Regions from separate parts of the Homo sapiens genome. Here region 1 is linked to region 2. The links come from fine-mapping of genetic effects on gene expression. A gene starts in region 2. The other region holds a variant in brackets. All regions are shown on one strand. Distances are between the middles of the regions. Region 1 overlaps FBF1 (Fas binding factor 1). Region 2 holds the start of UNC13D (unc-13 homolog D).

The links. PIP is the estimated chance that this variant, and not a neighbour inherited with it, causes the effect.
Region 1: its variant is fine-mapped to the expression of UNC13D in whole blood (INTERVAL, PIP 0.98).

The regions. Positions count from the first base shown.
Region 1 is chr17:75,915,129-75,923,704 of GRCh38, forward strand. It overlaps FBF1 (Fas binding factor 1), which reads right to left. Exons shown (of 30, transcript NM_001319193.2): 14 at 8,058-8,513; 15 at 6,817-6,918; 16 at 6,344-6,432; 17 at 6,116-6,174; 18 at 5,146-5,301; 19 at 4,879-4,979; 20 at 4,540-4,746; 21 at 3,034-3,141; 22 at 2,803-2,942; 23 at 2,604-2,722; 24 at 1-11. Among named protein-coding and RNA genes, the nearest start is that of MRPL38, 15 kb to the left of the region's middle. RefSeq lists enhancers at 1-94, 5,979-7,178. The variant C/T (reference allele first, on the strand shown) is at 4,644.
Region 2 is chr17:75,839,333-75,847,908 of GRCh38, forward strand. UNC13D (unc-13 homolog D) reads right to left here and starts at 5,072. Exons shown (of 32, transcript NM_199242.3): 1 at 4,889-5,072; 2 at 4,152-4,187; 3 at 3,827-3,934; 4 at 3,682-3,741; 5 at 3,525-3,591; 6 at 3,101-3,281; 7 at 1,625-1,669; 8 at 1,430-1,498; 9 at 1,175-1,244; 10 at 893-997; 11 at 686-778; 12 at 507-610. The coding sequence starts at 5,005. WBP2 (WW domain binding protein 2) reads right to left here. Exons shown (of 8, transcript NM_012478.4): 5 at 8,464-8,576; 6 at 8,155-8,277; 7 at 7,576-7,652; 8 at 6,367-7,455. The coding sequence ends at 7,402. RefSeq lists silencers at 4,342-4,401, 5,252-5,311, 5,322-5,481 and enhancers at 4,589-5,293, 5,712-5,791, 5,922-6,011.

The DNA.
Region 1 (8,576 bases), 76 kb after region 2:
CGCCAGCGTTCCTGTAGGGCCCAGGGCAGGACTGAGAGCGTGGTTCCCGCCCTGAGGATCACGCCTGGCCACTCCCTGAGAAGCTGCATGAACCCACCAGTGTCTCCCACACTATGCCACTGACACGTCCTTCCCAAAGAGGCACAAAATGAGGGGTGCCTGGGAGGCACTGCCAGGGCCCAGCCCGCACGATTCTGCCCAAGAGAAGGACCCAGCAGGTGCCCTCCCAACCCTCAGGTCTCCAACAGCACCAAGGCTAGCAGCTTGGGAGGGCCAAAGAGCAGCAACATCCCTGCCGCTGAATCGCCAGCTACGCACTCTGCCTGTCCTCACCCATCAGCCAAGCAGGCTAAGCACAGGGTGGCTTAATGCTGTGCTGTGGGCCCAGCCACACACAGCACAAGGCGAGAGCTTCACTGTGCCTGACCCCAGGCAGATGCTTAACACAGTTACCAAATGAAGAGGCGAATCAAAATGCTTCACAACATAAAAGCATCTCTATCTACGTTGACATGGCTACAGGATAGATATCAGGTCAGCAGTGGACATCTCTGACTAGTGGGATATTTTTATTTTCTTCTTTAAAAACATTTTTTTGGGCCGGGCACAGTGGCTCAGCCCTATAATCCCAGCACTTTGGGAGGCTGAGACGGGTGGATCACCTGAGGTCAGGAGTTCAAGACCAGCCTGGCCAACGTGGTGAAACCCATCTCTACTAAAAATACAAAAATTAGCTGGGCGTGGTGGCAGTTGCCTGTAATCCCAGTAGCTCAGGAGGCTGAGGCAGGAGAATCCCTTGAACCCAGGAGGCGAAGTTTGCAGTGAGCTGAGATTGCGCCACTACACTACAGCCTGGGTGACAGAGCGAGACTCTGACTCAAAAAAAAAAAAAAAAAAAAAAAAGTTTTTGGCTGGGCATGGTGGCTCACGCCTGTAATCCCTGCACTTTGGGAGGCCAAAGTGGGCAGCTTGTCTGAGCTCAGGAGTTTGAGATCAGCCTGGGCAACATGGCAAACCCCCGTTTCTACAAAAAATACAAAAAATTAGCTGGGTATAGTGGCATGCACCTGTGATCCCAGCTACTTGGCAGCTGAGGTGGGAAGATTGCTTGAGCCCAGGAGGTTCAAGCTGCAGTGGGCTGAGATCTTGCCACTGCACTCCAGCCTGAGTGACAGTGAGACCCCATCTCTAAAAAAAATTTTTTTTTTTGGCCAGGCATGGTGGCTCCCACCTGTACTCTCAAAATGTTGGGAGGCCTAAGTGGGCAGATTGCTTGAGCCCAGGAGTTCAAGACCAGCCTGGGCAACATGGCAAGACCCACATCTCAGTAAAAAATACACAATTAGCTGGGTGTGGTGGTTTGCGCCTGTAGTCCCAGCTACTCAGGAAGCTGAGGCAGGAGGATGGCTTAAGCCAAGGAGGTCAGGCTGCAGTGAGCTATGATCACACCACTGCACTCCAGCCTGGGCAACAGAGCAAGACCCTGTCTCTAAAAAATAACAGTGCTTTGTAAAACCTTAGAAGATGATAACTACTAGCTGAGGACAAAAAGATAGGTGGGAGGACAAGGAAGGCTTTGTGGAGGTGGTAGCATCGAAAGATTCATTACCATTGAATTCAGCCTAGAAAGATTTCCACAGGTAAGGAAAAGGATGTGAGCAAAGGCAGGGACTGCAGGTGTGCACCACCACACCCAGTTAATTAAAACAAAATTTAAATGTTTTTATTATTTATTTTTTTGAGACAGAGTCTCGCTCTGTTAACCAGACTGGTGTGCCATGTTATGATCTCCACTCACTGCAGCCTCTGTGTCCTAGATTCAAGCGATTCTCCCACCTCAGCCTCTCTAGTAGCTGGGATTACAGGCGTGCGCCACCACGCCTGGCTAGTTTCTTATTTCTTTATTTTTAGTTTCACCATGTTGGCCAGGCTGGTCTCGAACTCCTGACCTCAAGTGATCCTCCAGCCTTGGACTCCTGAAGTGCTGGAATTACAGGCATGAGCCAACTTGCCTGGCATAAAAAAATTTATTTATGGTCTCGCTAGGCTGGTCTCAAATTCTGGGCCTTAAGTGATCCTGCTGCCTCAGCCCCCCAAGTAGCTGGGATTATAGGCACAGGCCACTGTGCCTGGCTAAGGTCATCATTATTTAAATAAAGCATGTGCTTATATATGAAAGGTATCTAGGGAATTCAAATGTCTCTGTGAGAGCTGAAGAGGCTAGGATGACATTTAATGGGCAAGAGCATCTGTCCCAATGTCAGGCCTCAGCTAATGTGACAGATTCGAGTGTCAGGAAGTGGGAAGTGCAGCTGATGGTTGCGGGGGCTAGACTGCGGAGGGCAGCCAAGGTGGCCGAGGGGCTTGCGGTGCTGAGGAGCGGACAGGGCGTGGTGGGGGGCCTGGCCAGGCGGCCCCTGCATGCTCAGGTGGGCAGTGCTGAGAGCCTGGCCAGGGCAGGGAGATGTAGAGGCAGGAAGCGGCAGGTGGGGCCTTGACCTCCTGAGGAAGTGAGGTCACGGGAGTGCCGCTACACTTGCGGGTGCCCTGGAGAAGAGGCCCCGTGGCAGGAGGGGCAGGAGGGCCAGGAGGACGGGCCTCACCTGCTCCAGCAGCCGGCTCTGCTCATTCAGCCGTGCCTCCATCTTCCCGATGACCTCCTGTTGCCGGCTCCGCTCCTCCTCCATGTCCCGCTGCTGCTGGCCCAGCCGCTCCTGCAGTGCTGGGGGCAACCCACAGGGTGCTCAGCAGCTGCTCCCCCTTCCCACCAGGAGCCGGGGTGGCTGAGAGGGGAGGGCGTACCCCGCAGCTGCTCGTCACGCTGCCGGATCCCCAGCTCCCGCTCCTGGGAGGTGGTGAGGTGCGAGGCCTCCACGCGGGAGGACAACTCGTGCAGGCTGCTGGAGAACTTCTCCATCTGGTGGATGATGCTATTCAGGGACCTGGAAGAAGACTGGGTCACCCCCTCCTGACGGTCTCGGGGACCTTCCGGCCCCCAACGTCAGGCGGGCATGGTTGGGGCAGCGCACATACCGCGTGTGGGAGGTGGCACTGGTGGCCGCATCGACCTCTCGGTCCTTCAGCAGCTTTAGCCGCTGCAGCTGCTCCTCGTGGTCTCTGCGCATGTCTAGGATGGACGCCCTGAGGGGAGGCGGGAGGGGAAGGCGGTCACTCTGAGCTGGATCACCCTGATGCGGTAACTCCTTGTGGAAGGGTGTGTTTCCGTGCAGCCCTTGCTCCCAGGCCTCTCCTCCGCCGGGCACTGCCTCAGTTTCCCCAGCTCCTCTGTCTTATCTGTCATGGTGCCTCAATGCTACACGCACTAAGATGGGCATTCCTCCCATTATTCAGCTTTTCTTTTTTTGGAGATGGAGTTTTGCTCTGTCACCCAGAGTCTCTCACTCTGTCGCCCAGGCTGGAGTTCAGTGGCATGATCTCGGCTCACTGCAACCTCTGCCTCCTGGGTTCAAGCAATTCTCCTGCCTCAGCCTCCCGAGTGGCTGGGACTATAGGCGCTCACCACGCCTAATTTTTTATATTTTAGTAGAGATGGGGTTTCCACCGTGTTGCCCAGGCTGGTCTCGAACTTCTGAGCTCAGGCAATCTACCCACCTTGGCCTCCCAAAGCACTGGGATTACAGGTGTGAGCCACCACGCCCGGCCCCAAGCAGTCTTTCTTTTTTTTTTTTTTTTTCCTAGAGATGAGGTCTCACTATGTTGCCCAGGCTGGTCTTGAACTCCTAGCCTCAAGCAATCCTCCTGCCTTGGCCTCCCAAGTGTTTTGTTTTTTAAATGTTTTTAGAGACAGGGTTTTGTTCTGTGGTCCAGGCTGGAGTGCAGTGGCATCATAGCTCATTGCAGCCCTGATCTCTTGGGCTGAAGGTATCCTCCTGCCTCAGTTTCCCAAGTAGCTGGAACTACAGGAGTAGCTGTCATGCCAGCTTATTTAAAAATTGTTTTTAGAGATGAGGTCTCACTGTGTTGCCCAGACTGGTCTCAAACTCCTGGCCTCAAGTGATCCTCCCACCTCGGCCTCCCAAAGTGCTGGGATTACAGGTGTGAGCCACTGCACCCGGCCCTGAGCAGTCTTAAAAGGCTGCCTCTGCCTTCATCGACCTCTGACTCCCTTAGGTAACTTTTCTTAGTTTCCTTCTCTTCTAGAAAGGCAACCCTATAAACATGGCAGGCACAACAGCGCAAGCCTTTCCCAGGTGGATCTTGTTTCTAGCCTCTACTGCATGAGCAGGCGAGTGGATGACCCTGTGCTTAGTTAGACCCTAGGCGGCTTGCTGCTGCCATGCCATGCCTGAACAGCCTGTGGGTACCCCCTCCTGCCTCTGTAAGAGCAGGTGGCACCCCCACCCATGGGTGTGATGGGTCAGTGTGCTCAGCCCTCAGTCCTCACTCACTGGACTGGGAGGGAAGGACCCAACCCCTGTCCAAAGGCTGCTGAGCCACAGCGAAGGGTCTCGTGGGGATGGCTCTCTTCCGGCTACTCCTTGCAAGCCTGCTCCCCAGCTGCCTGTCCCTGGGCCTCACCGCTGCAGCTCCCGGAGCCGCTCCATTTCCTGGTCCTTCTCCTGCGCTATGGCCGCCAAGCGCCGCTGGTGCTGGGCCGTAAGCTCAGCACGGGCCTGTTCGGC[C/T]TCCTGGCACTGCGACAGATACCGAGCTGACAGCTCTTCGTTCTCTCTCCGGAGCCGCTCCTCCCGTTGCTGGTACGATGTTTCTAGCACCTTGATGCGGCTTCTGCCAACAGAACACCCAGCCATGGCGCAAGGAAGGCAGAGGGCTGCCGCCTAAAGGCCTCTCCAGGCACACTGGGTGGCCTTTGGGGTCAGTGTGAGATCCAAGGCAGAGCTGGGGCCAGCGCCAGGGTACCTGTGTGCACTCTCGATGAGCTCCAGGTCTGCCTGGTGCTGCTGCTGCAGACTCCCCAGCAGCAGCTCATGCTGGGCCCGTTCTAGCTCCAGCTTCCGCACCTGGGAGACAGCAGGAGGGCCAGCAACCAGGGAGGGGAGGTGGCTGTACTCCACGCTGCCCTGTGCCAACAGCCCTTCCTCCCTCCTGGGGAAGCTTCCAGCCACTCTCAGTGTCCCCTCCTGTCGCAACCCTGCCACCAGCACCAACGGCCCCGCTGCCCCTCACCTGGGCCTCCAGCTCTGCCAGCCGGGCCTGGCTATGCAGCAGCTCGGCCTGGAGCTCAGCGGGGCTGCACTGAAGTTGCACCTGTGCTGCCAGGAGCTGCTTCTGGTATTCTGTGCTCGGCAGCAGGCTCCGGGCCAGGGACTCTGGGAGCAGGGGCTGGAGGAGAGGAAGAGAGGTGTTTCTAGTTAGGGAGGGGACAGGGGCCCAGCTGAGATCAGCTACCTCCTGGCCCACTGCTCACTGGACCTCCCTGCATCTGATCTGTGGCTGCAGATGGGGCCAAGGCCTTGGAAAGTAACAGTCACTGCGGCTAAGCAGTCCCCAGTGTACCTCCCCTTGCAGATCTGGTCAGGAGCATGTCTCCCTCCACCCTCCGGAACAGCTTCCTCCCCAGCATGGTCTCCGGCTTCCCAGACAAATGGCTGAACCCCAGCAGAGTCTTCGCTATGACAAAAGCTGATGCTGGCTTTTCCTGTCAGGCCTGAAGCCCACATGTTGACACTAATCTGGTTCCCACGAGCTGTCCCCTACCCACCATCTCCCAGGGACACACTCCTGGGGGGGGGGGGGGCACACCTCCCAGGCCCAGGTGTCACAGGTGACTGCCACACATGGGAAACAGAGGCAGAGGTGTGGTGGGAGGATGGCAAGGGTGGAGGAGGCTTTCTTGACAGAACAGGACCCTGCGGCCCTGCTTTCTGACTGCAGCATCCCAGCTCCCCGGCCTGGCTGCCTCCTTAAACTCCCCACTGATGTAGGCAAATTAACACCCAGCTCTGCCCAGGAGCAGCGAGGCTAGAAATTCAGGCAAGTTCTAGTGGGGGGTGCCCGGGGAGCTGGCTGACGTCACATTTGGTATGTTTGACACATTTTTCCTGGCAGGTCGTCAGGTCAAACTGTGGGTATTGCCCCTGGGCATGGAGAATTGCTCCCTAGGCCCTGAGCTAGACCTGTCTGCCCACACCCCTACCTGGACGGGCACGGAAGGCTCTGTGGGTTTCTGGGTGCTCGGGAAACACGTGGCAGGCTCTGAAACATCAACAACAGAGAAATGAACAGGAGGCCCAGGGCACTGGGCCTGCGAGTGTCCAGGAGGGGCTGGTGTAACTCATGTCCCAGGGACCCCAAAGGAAGCTCAAAGCACCTCTTCCTCACCCAGGGTTAAACTCCCAAATGAAGCAGCAAACAAAAAACAAACCAGTGGCTGAGAGGTCTCCAGGGGCTGTTCCCCTCTTTGGGGAACCTGTAGGGAGTGCTGAGGCGGCATGGTTCTGAGTCACAGGGGACCTGAGGACACAGGGATGGGGCATGGTGAGCAGCCTCTGTGTGGGACACGGGGACGGGGCAGGGTGGGCAGCCTCTAGGTGGGACATGGGGACGGGGCAGGGTGGGCAGCCTCTACGTGGGACACGGGGATGGGGCAGGGTGGGCAGCCTCTGCTGGGACACGGGGACGGGGCAGGGTGGGCAGCCTCTAGGTGGGACACGGGGATGGGGCAGGGTGGGCAGCCTCTGTGTAGGGCACAGGGACGGAGCAGGGTGGGCAGCCTCTGTGTGGGACACGGGGACGGGGCAGGGGCAGGGTGAACAGCCTCTGTGTCCCTCTCTCAGGACAGAGGCCTGTGCTGCCCACCATGCTCTCATTCCCACTCAGCCCGCAGCCCAGGCCTACCCCGAGACACCAGGCCTGACACACGGTCTTTCTCGTGCAGTTGTTCCAGAACTCCCTCCAGCAGCTGCGTGCTCAAGCCCTTGTGTGCTGGTGAGAGGTTGGCTGAGGAAAGGCAGCGTTCAAGGTGAAGGTGACAGAAGGCCCAGGTCAGGCTGGATGAAGACAGGGCCCAGGACGGGCTTCACACGTGAAGCTCGTGGCCCCCCTTCCTCCTGCTTCCACCATCCCGTCTTGGGGCATTCTCCTCCCACGTCTGAGCTCCTGGGATTTCTGGGCATCTCTTCCCTTCCAGTACCCCCTTCCTGCCTCAATGTCCACAGTGGTGCAGTGAATGGACACTGTCCAAGCAGTGACAACGGAAATGTTATAGACACTGGAGTCAAGTTCAAGTTCAGAGCCCTGTTCCAGTCCACTTAACTTGGCTCAGCTCTAGATTAGGATTCTGCTCAGTCTACCAAATCTGGCTGGCTCCCTTTCCCATTATTTCCACCTCTTTCTCGGCTCACGGGTCAGTGAAGAGACAGGCTCTTTTCTGTTTTGGCCTGAGCTTTCCCCTCGGCCTCAGGTCAAAGTCAAAACTGCCCTCCTGTCATCAACCCCAGGACAGGGTGATGTCCCTGGGCTGTCACAAATTGCCCAGTTCACTCCCCTGGGCTCTGGCCACAGCACATCTCACCACTTCCTCTGGACTCCCCCAGCCTGCTGGCCCCTTGTGCCTTCCTGCCTTCAGAGGTCACTCGCTATCCTGCCCCACGGATAAGGGCTTCTCCAAGAGGCGCCTCTCGGCCACTATGTCTCCTCTAACACTCTCAAAGAGCACAGGGACATCTCAGCTCACACACGCCATACTCGCTTCAGTGGAGTCGGCAGAAGCACCGGCTGTTTGGATGCCGGGGCTTCCAGCCTGAGGGCGCTGTGACAGGGCAGCGGTGTGTCTGCCACCTCAGGGACCCTCTGTCTTCTCCTCGATCAAGTTAGCACCTGTCCCCATGGCGGTCAGGGCATGAATGTCAACAGCCCTCCTTCTTGGGTATGTCCCTGGGGCAAGCCTGGGAGCCAGAGGCTCTCTCTGCAGTGCCTAAAAGGCAGAGTAGCAAAGCCAAGAAGCGGCCTCTGTGGCCACGGCGCCCTGCCTTGTTCCCCAACTGCTGACTGAGGCTGCAACAGGTGAAGGGGCAAAGGGGCTCCTCAAGTCCCCAGCCAGTCCTCCCCCTACTAGCCACAGCAGCCTAAGTCAGTACCTGCCAGAAGGGGGATGGCCCGCTGTCCCCGCCAAATGCAGGCCCTCAGAGGTCCCAGCATGCTGCTCTCTGGCCAGGCCTTGGGACTTCTTCCGAGACAGGGCATGGCTCAGCCAGTCCTCTTTCTCCTCCTTGGAGGCTCGCAGCTTGGAAGCCTGGCTGGCTTTGGCAGGGGACCCTGCACCTTCAGTTGGTGGCTTTGCCCTGGAGGGGGGCAGCCCAGCTGGCGTGGAGTGCTGGCTCGCAGGAGGAGGCACTGAGGGCGTGACAGGCACTGAACTTTCCCGATGGGCCTCTCTGGTGGGTGAGGCAGGGAACAGGTCCAAGTCCTCGTCCTTGAGGCCCAACCAGTCAGCTCCTCCCTTCCTGGGCTGGATGGGGCTGGAAGCCATTGGAGGGCTCTGTTTGGAGCCTGGTTCTCCCTTGGGGTCTGCGCCACTGTCTGCGAAGAACCTACTTCAAGACAGAAAGGAGGGTGTCAGGCAGGGGAAACAGCCAGTCCCAGTGGCCCCCTAGCAG
Region 2 (8,576 bases):
CAGAGGTTGCATGCAGTGAGTCAAGATTGCACCATTCCACTCCAGCCTGGGCAACAAGGGTGAAACTCCGTTTCAAAAAAAAAAAAAAAAAGCAGCAAAATGATGACCCTGCAGTTCCAGCACTTGTGTTTCATGAGAAGCTGGAGATCTGGATGGTATGTCAAATCTCCAGATAGCTTTTTCTAATATTTTTTGGAAATGAGGTCTCACTCTGTGATCCGGGCAGGAGTGTTGGTGTGATCATAGCTCACTGCAGCCTTGAAATCCTGGGCTCAAGTGATCCTCCTGCCTCAGCCTCCCAAAGTCCTGGGATTACAGGAGTGAGCCACCGCATCAGCCGAATCTCTAGACTTTTTAAAATTGGCAACTGATTCAAAACTTAAAACACACATTTTGGGCCAAAGGGAACTCTGCTGAGAATTACACTTTGGGCTACCGGCTTGGAGGAGGGCAGGGGGCGTGGGGGGCTGGTGGCTCAGGGGTTCTGCCCAGGGCTGTGTACTCACGCCATGGACTGGTGGAAGTCGGATAGGTCCTTCTGTGTGGCGTGCAGAAAGAGGACGGTGGCAGCCTGGGGACTCAGCGACCCGTCCCAGGAGGTGCTTCCCGCCTGAGGGGAGCAGGTGGAGGAGTGTCAGGACCTGAAGGGCAGCCCCGGCTGCGCCCAGCCCCAGGAGGGCAATACCTCGTGCTGGGTGACCTCGTGGGACACAAGCTGCTGCAGGAGGTGGAGGTGCACGGTGTAGCTCGGCTGCGAGCGGCTGGCCGAAGTGGCTCTCTGCAATGAGGCCTCTGTGAGCAGACAGGGCCTCACACTGGGTGCAGCCAGCCCCGCAACCCAGCAGACCGCCGCAAGAGCTGGGCATGGCCACTGGCCCAGTACCCGACCTACCCGCTTATGGATGAGTTGGAACTGGAGGTGGCACTGGCCTCGGTCTGGGTAGGTCTCAGTGCGGGGTTCCAGGGGGTACCACTGGTCCTCTCGGCAGCGCAGGTCCTGACAGGCGGGGATGCCCAGCCCGTGAGCGTCAGAACCTCATAGAGTCGGGGCAGCGGAGGCGACAGGAGGTGGACCCCAGGCTCAGCTTTGTGAGGACACAGAGCCTCTCCCCAGAACCCCTCCCAACCCCCTCCCTCTGCCTCGCTCCTGGGCCCCTTTCCTCATCCTCCTCACCTGCAGCCTCAGAACCACGTTCCCCAGAAAGTCGTCCTGGCCTTTGTCCTTCCGGGCCTCTTTAAAGATCCTGCGTCAGGCAGGGTCCCATAAGGGGGACGCAGCAAGGGTCGGAAGGGATTAGGCTGGAATCCACCCCCGGCCGCAGCCACCTGGACCCCAAAGGAGCCTGCACCCCAGCATCCAGTGTGCATGTTGGGGGATGGAGGGCAAAAGGAGCCCCAACCCCTTCCCTGTGAGCCCTGCAACACGAACCTGCGAAGCCCATGCAGATCCGTGAGCTCCCCAAGCTTCTGTCGGACAGACTCCACAGTGTCCAGGTCCCTGGCAGGACAGAGGTTTGAGAAGGAAGCAGAGAGAGTGCCTACGACCTCTTCCAGGAGGAGGTTCCGCCTCTCTCACCCCAGATCCCTTCCCTTCCCATCCCTAGGGGCAGGCCAGGTCACTCACCACATGTCCAGATGAAAGCTCGCATTGGTGATGTCCTCAAACTCCCTGTATGGAGAAAAGGGCGTGGTTGAGGGCCCTGGAGGGTGGATGCCCCCAGACGAAGCAGTAAGTGACCACAGCCCAGAGCCATGGAGTTGTAGCCTATCCCTGCCAAACTTCCCTCCTCCCAGCCGCATCCCTTTTTTTTTTTTTTTTTTTTTTTTTGAGATGGAGTCTAGTTCTGTCCCCCAGGCTGGAGGAGTGCAGTGGCAGGATCTAACTCACTGCAACCTCTGCCTCCTGGGTTCAAGCAATTTTCCTGCCTCAGCCTTCCAAGTAGCTGGGATTACAGGTGCCCGCCACCACACCTGGCTAATTTTTGTATTTTTAGTAGAGACGGGGTTTCACTGTGTTGGCCACACTGGTCTTGAGCTTCTGACCTCGTGATCCGCCCGCCTAGGCCTCCCAAAGTGCTGGGATTACAAGCGTGAGCCACCGCGCCCAGCCTTTTTTTTTTTTTTTTTGAGACAGAGTCTCACTCTGTCACCCAGGCTGGAGTGCAGTGGCGTGATCTCGGCTCACTGCAACCTCCGCCTCCCGGGTTCAAGTGATTCTCCTGCCTCAGCCTCTTAAGTAGCTGGGATTACAGGCATGCACCTCCACGCCCGGCTAATTTTTGTACTTTTAGGAGAGGTGGGCCTTCATTGTGTTGGCCAGGCTGGTCTCAAACTCCTGACCTCAGGTGATCCACCTGCCTCGGCCTCCCAAAAGTGCTGGGATTACAGGCATGAGTCCCTGCGCCTGGCCCCCACTAATTTTTTTTTTTTTTTTTGAGACAGAGTGTCGCTCTGTCACCAGGCTGGAGTGCAGTGGTGCTATCTCGGCTCACTGCAACCTCCGCCTCCCAGGTTCAAGCGATTCCCCTGCCTCAGCCTTCCGAGTAGCTGGGACTACAGGCGCCTGCCACCACGCCCGGCTAATTTTTTGTATTTTAGTAGAGACGGGGTTTCACCGTGTTAGCCAGGATGGTCTCAATCTCCTGACCTCATGATCTGCCCTCCTCAGCCTCCCAAAATGCTGGGATTATAGGCGTGAGCCACCACGCCCGGCCTTTTTTGTATTTTTAGTAGAGATGGGGTTTTGCCATGTTGGCCAGGCTGGTCTCAGTCTCCTGGCCTCCCAAAGTGCTGGGATTACAGGTGGGAACCACTGCACCCATCCCTGCCTCCTTTCAGGTACAGCTTCAGGCACCCCCAGACTCACCCACAAGGGCCTGACCCTCCTTGCCCCATCAGCACGTGTGGCATTGATCTTGTTCTGTCCCATCTGACCTACTGTCCACCTAACGTGCCTGGAGATGGGCTTCTCCTCTAGTCTTTGCCCAGGGCCAAACCCCCTCCCCTGAGCCAGGACGACCTACTCATCTCATTGTCTGGGGCAGACCCTGCTACCCAGGAAAGACCTGGATAGAGTGGGGGCTGGAGCACGGCCACGTACAGGATGAAGGTCTCGTCCCAGACGGGGTTGAGTGTCTGGGTGATGACCTGCGTGCGGTGGGTCTCCTCCTCGGGGATGGTGTGCCTCACCACAGCCTTCTGCCGATGCCGGGACCCGGGGCTGCCCCCTGGCACACCTACCCCCTGCTCAATGCCCAGCAGGCAGTAGGGGTCGCTGAACCCTGTGGAGGAGTGGGGAAGACGAGGCAGCCAGGGAGTCGGCTGGGTCCCTGGGAGAGGCCCTCATCACCCCCGCCCGGGGCTGAGCCTCCTCCGGGGGAGAGGGAAGGGGACCAGCAGCATGGGGGGCCAGCGCTACAGGGCTTCTTGGAAGTGGGTGCTCCCGCCAAGAGTCCTGGGCCAGGCTGTGATGGGAGAGGAAGGAGCCAGGAAGAAGCCCCTTGGGGACCCCACCCCATGCTCACCACTGACATCTTTGCCCAGAATGCCCTTGGCCTGTTTCACTGTTGCCTTCAGACAAAATATTGGCTTCTGGAGGGACAGGAGGGATGGCCTGAGTCCCTGAGGGGGCTGGGCTTCCCAGGCCCCTCCTTGCCCAGGGGGACCCTGGCCCCAGGTTACCTCAAGCTCCCTGACCCGCTGCAGTGTCTGCTGGTGCTCCTCGGGCTCCACGTGGAAGGCCTGGTGGGGAGGCAGGCGGGTGGGTGGCTGGGGGCACCAGACAGGGCAGCTGCAGGAAGGGGGGTGGGGTGGGAGCCGGGCTCACCTCCTGCAGGTATCGCAGCAGCTCAGAGGCCTCCGTCACATGGTTGGGCTCAGGATGACCCAGGCGGTGCAAGACAGTGTAGAGTGCGTCCTCGTAGAGCAGGGCCCGCTAAGACACACGGGGTCACCTTGGGGACCCCACCAGCCACCCCTGGCACCAACACCTCTCGCCATGGGCAGGACAAGGGCGGCTTGTGCAGCGGAGGGAGTTGAGACCCAGGAGTCCCCTCCCCACCGCAAGTTGCTTGCTGCCATCAGCGTCGGCCGGCAGGAGGACACACAGCCGCCCTCCCCACCTCTCTGCACCCCAGCACTCTGACTCTTACCTGCTCGGGGGAGAAGTGGTGGGATGGAGGCTGGATCTGCAGAGCAAGGTGGAAAGGCAGTGTCCCGGGAGGCCCAGAGCAGGCTCAGATGGACAGGAATGGCTCCTCTGAGGCCTGATCCAGGCCAAGGGTATGGGGGCCCCAGCACCCCGGCCTCCAGCCCCAGTGATGCCCCGCACCTGTTCCCCCAGCAGGCCTCCTGGAGGTCCGTCCCTGGGCCCGCCGTGGCTGAGGTCCATGGGTGCCCAGCAGCGCGAGCCCTCCGCACCCGCACCCCACCTCCCTCCCTTCCCCAGAGGAAACAGCTCTGCTTATCAGTGGCGGCTGCTCCTCACCCAGCAGCGGAAGTGAGGCTCGGCAGCGGAGGTGAGGGGGGTGCCACGTCGGCCTGGGGGTCTGCTGCTCCCCGAACAGCTCACCCCACAGCAGGGACACCCCCACCTAATGGAGTCGGCTCTTCTGAAGCTGGAGGAGTAGGGGATGGGGTCAGGCCAACCGGGAGGGAGGGGTTCTGAGAGCCTCAGACCACAGGGCCTGAGGCCCACAGTGGCCCAGAGTCCATCTGGCAGCCCCTGCTCTGCTGGCCCAGGGGGCTCTCCCCAGGGTGGAGTAGGCAGGGGAGGGTCGCTGGTCCCCAGTCCCAGCCTTCGAGAGGTGGGGCCAGACAGCAGGGCACCCGTACCCGAGACCACAGTGCTCCCCAAGGCCAGCTCTCTCCCCAGTGAGGTCACTCCTACCTCCGGGGCCATTTGGGGCGGGGGATCCTGTAGATCTCTGACTCTGCGGCGCCTTATCTTGATGGCCTGGCGCAAGAAGGGAGGGCGCTGCTGCGGATGGGAGAGGAGTGTCGCCATGGTGGCCTTCTCTGCCCTTCCCTGTCCGCTGGTGCTGGGTGAAGACAGCGAAGCCACAGGATTATGCAAAGAGCCTGGGGCTGCCACCCTCTGTCAGGGGAAGTTTTAGGGAGGGTGGCTGGGAGGGACGGAAGGGTGAGGGTTTCACCGCTTCGGAGAGGCAGTCTCCCAGGCCCCCTGCACCTTCCCCAGCTGGGATCCCTACAGGACCCTCCTCTGGCTGGAGCAGAAGGTGGACCCCGTGGGCAGGCCTGGCCCCGCCCCACCCTCCTACAGAGGCCCTGGGAAGGGGACAACGCTCTCAGCAGGGGGCGGGGGGGCCCAGAACAGGCGGGCAGCATCCTGCCCCATCCATGTGCTGTGCCCAGGCTGGGCTGAACCCTGAGAGAAGCTGACCTGGGCCCGGGGGGGTTCTCACCCCACTTCCTCGAGTGCGTCCAGACGTGGGGCGGGGCGGGGTGGGGTGGGGTGTGGTGGCGCCCAGGGTGGGGGCTCCCAAGAGGCGTCTCCCTGGAGGACAGCCAGTTGCTCAGCCTGCCTGGCCCCACAGGTGACATTCCTTGGAGATGACGGGGCCAAGCTGTGCTGGGCAGGGACAGCCCTGTGCCCCTGCCCCCACCTTGGCAGTCAGGACAGTGCTCCCTTCAGACACCCTTGAAGGGGGCTTAGCCAAGTCCCAGAGAGCTCTGGGCCAGGCTGGCCAGGAGGAGGAGGCAGAGGGGCTGCTGCCCGATCTCTCCTGAGGACAGACTTGGCTCCCGGGGGACAGGAAAATGCGCCTCAGCATGGGGCTTTCCTAGAGCTCTGTGGCCTGCCCACCCTGTGCCCAGTGCTGGGCTGGGGGACTTGCGGGCGTGTGGGCCTGGTCACGGCCTTTGGCCATTTCCCACCCTCCTGTCCCTTCAAGTTCACAGCAGGGCACGTGACGTGGGTGGTGGCAAGCCGGCTTGGCTACCTCAGTGTCCCTGTCACAGGTCCTGACGTGCTCCAGGGCTGACTCGGCCTCCTCCCTCCAGCAACCAGGACTTAGGCCAGGGCTGCCATTCCTCGAGGAGCCAGCAGGGGACAAGGTGGCAGCCCCAACTCCTCCCTTCAAGGCCAACTCTGGGCCACATCCACCTCTGTCCCAGCCAGGCCCTGGGGACTCAGTGGGGGAGGGACACAGCTGCTGAGCGACAACCGTTAAGAACCAGCTCCAGAGGCCAGAGCTGTCTTGGGGACCAGACAGGCTGGCTGGGCCGTGAGAATGGGGATCCTCCCATGGGAGGGAACCGTCCCAGAAGTCTCCAGGGCCCTCAGCGGCCAGACGGCTCTCCTTCCGGAAGAGACCCCCGGGTCACCACACGCAGAGCCAGAAAGGGTCCAGTTATTTCATTTTTACTATTTCACATTTTCAGCAAACAAATCGAGGTGCAAACAGGGTTTATTTCACATTAATATATTAACTGGATTTTTTGTCAAATAAATAGGGAATTCTCTTTAAATAACCATCTCCTCACTTCATGGCCAGTCCAGGGACAAACAAGAGTGAATGTTAGCGCATCCAGGGGCACAAAGCTTAAGGGGAAGAAGCAGGCTGGGGGGCTGGTGGCAGGTCCCGGCCAGCACACAGGGTCAGGGGCCCTTGTTCCCGGCCCCACCCAGCAGCCACCAAGTGGACAGACATGCATTCTCTGGTTCCAGTCAGGAAGCTCCTTCTAGAAGGAAGTGAGAGGTGAGGGAAAGCAAATTCCAGAAACACCAGCAAAAGGCAGAAGGGCTTCCTCCCAGCCTCGGCGGCCCTGCCCCGACGCCACCCAAGCCCTGGAAGCTCATTTTACAGCTTCAAAAGTCACACAGGGTGGCAACAACATGACCCAGGACAGGGAAGGGAAGGAAGGGTGGCGGGGGCTGCAGCTGGACCCTGGCTGAGTGGAATGCGGGCGCGGTGGCCTTCTGAGACCAGCACAGACCAGCAGAGGGAATGTGAGCAGGGTCTGGCAGGGCCCGGGAAGACACCTGGCTGGTCTGAAGTGGCTCATGAGGCTGAGTGTAGCAGTGGGTGCCAGACTGAGGGAGCTGGACTGCGGTGGAGGAGGTGGCCAGAGAGTCCCTTCGAGGGGAGAAGCTGAGAGTGAAACAGGAACAGGGGATGCTCCGTGCTCCCAGAAGAGCCCCAGACGGTGAGGGAGGTACGCTGGGCAGCACTGTGGGCTCCGGGCTGGCATGGGAAGCTGGGCGGCACCTCTCCCGAGGCCGGGGGCCCTAATGTCCCACAATGCTAGTTCCTGGTAATTGTTTATGATCAGACCTGGAGGGAGAACAAGGCGCCCCCTCCCCTCCCCAAGCCCCAGCACAGCCCCGATGGGAGGGGTAGGGTAGAGAGATGAGGGTGGGAGGCAGGGAGGCAGGAGGGCCTACTGGGTCTTCTTATCTTCCGGTGGGTAGTAGGGAGGTGGCGGCGGCTGGCTCTAAAGAAGGGAGAAAGGAGAGACTTGCATTAGAAGGTTTAAAACATGGTGCGGTCATCCCCCTGCGGCTCCCAGCATCTGCGGCTGTGGGGCTGCACCGGCACTGCCAAGCCCTCTCACCGTGGGCATGTAGACGTTGTGAGGATTGCCTGGGTTGTAATAGGCGCTGGCGGCTGCTTCTGCGGCCTTGGCTTCGGCTGTGAGAGCAAACACACCTGGTGTCGGTGACAAGTTCTCCTCCCCCTGAGCTCAGCTAAGAGACCCCGGGCCCCCATGGCTCGGGGCAGCTGGTGCTGGGGGTCCAGTTCCACCAATGAGAGCAGCAGGTGAGGTTTCCTGAGCACATGCCACGCGCTGGCACGGTCCTTTCCAGGCCCATCGCATGTCTCACCTCATCTAATCCTTGAGCCAATGCCCCAGGTGCCACTGTGACCGACCAGCTGAGTGTAGATGAGAGGATCGAGAGGCACACAGGGTGACCTTCCCCGCCCAGGGCACATGGATAGCTAAGGGATGGGGGTGGGGCCAGAATCTAGCTCCGCTCCACCAGGCCACAGCCCTGCTGGGCCCCTGGGGTAGTCCAGGGGTCATCCATCATCTGCGGCTCTCAGCAGTCTCTGGCCATTCTGAGGCTCTCTGTGCGACATCGGGGAGGAGAGGGCTGGTCCCGAAGGGCTGCCAGCACCCAAGGGCCCTCACCTGCAGGAGTGGAGGGGACATCGGGGCCGCTGACCGGAGGTTCCATGGGCCCAGGGTAGGGCGGTGGTGGGGGCTGCACGTATCCCATGGCCCCGTCCATCATGGGGGGTCCTGGATAGAACTCTGCTCGGTGAGAGAGTAACAAGGACATGGTGAGCACCCGGCTGCGGCCCCCTCCCGGGTGAGGGGGGCCTCTCCAGCTCCTTCGTTGGTCCTGAAGCAGCTCAAGGAATAAAGTCTCCCTGGCCTGGGGGGAGCCTGGGTAGGTGGGCTCATGAGGGGAGTGGGGGCAGCAAAGGACACACTCACCAGGTGGGGGCGGTGGATAGGGGTAGCCAGGAGGGCAGGGGTACATTCCATTGGCGACTGGCGGGGGATAGACATAGGCCCCGCTGGGCATGTAAGAGTAGCCATAGGCTCCA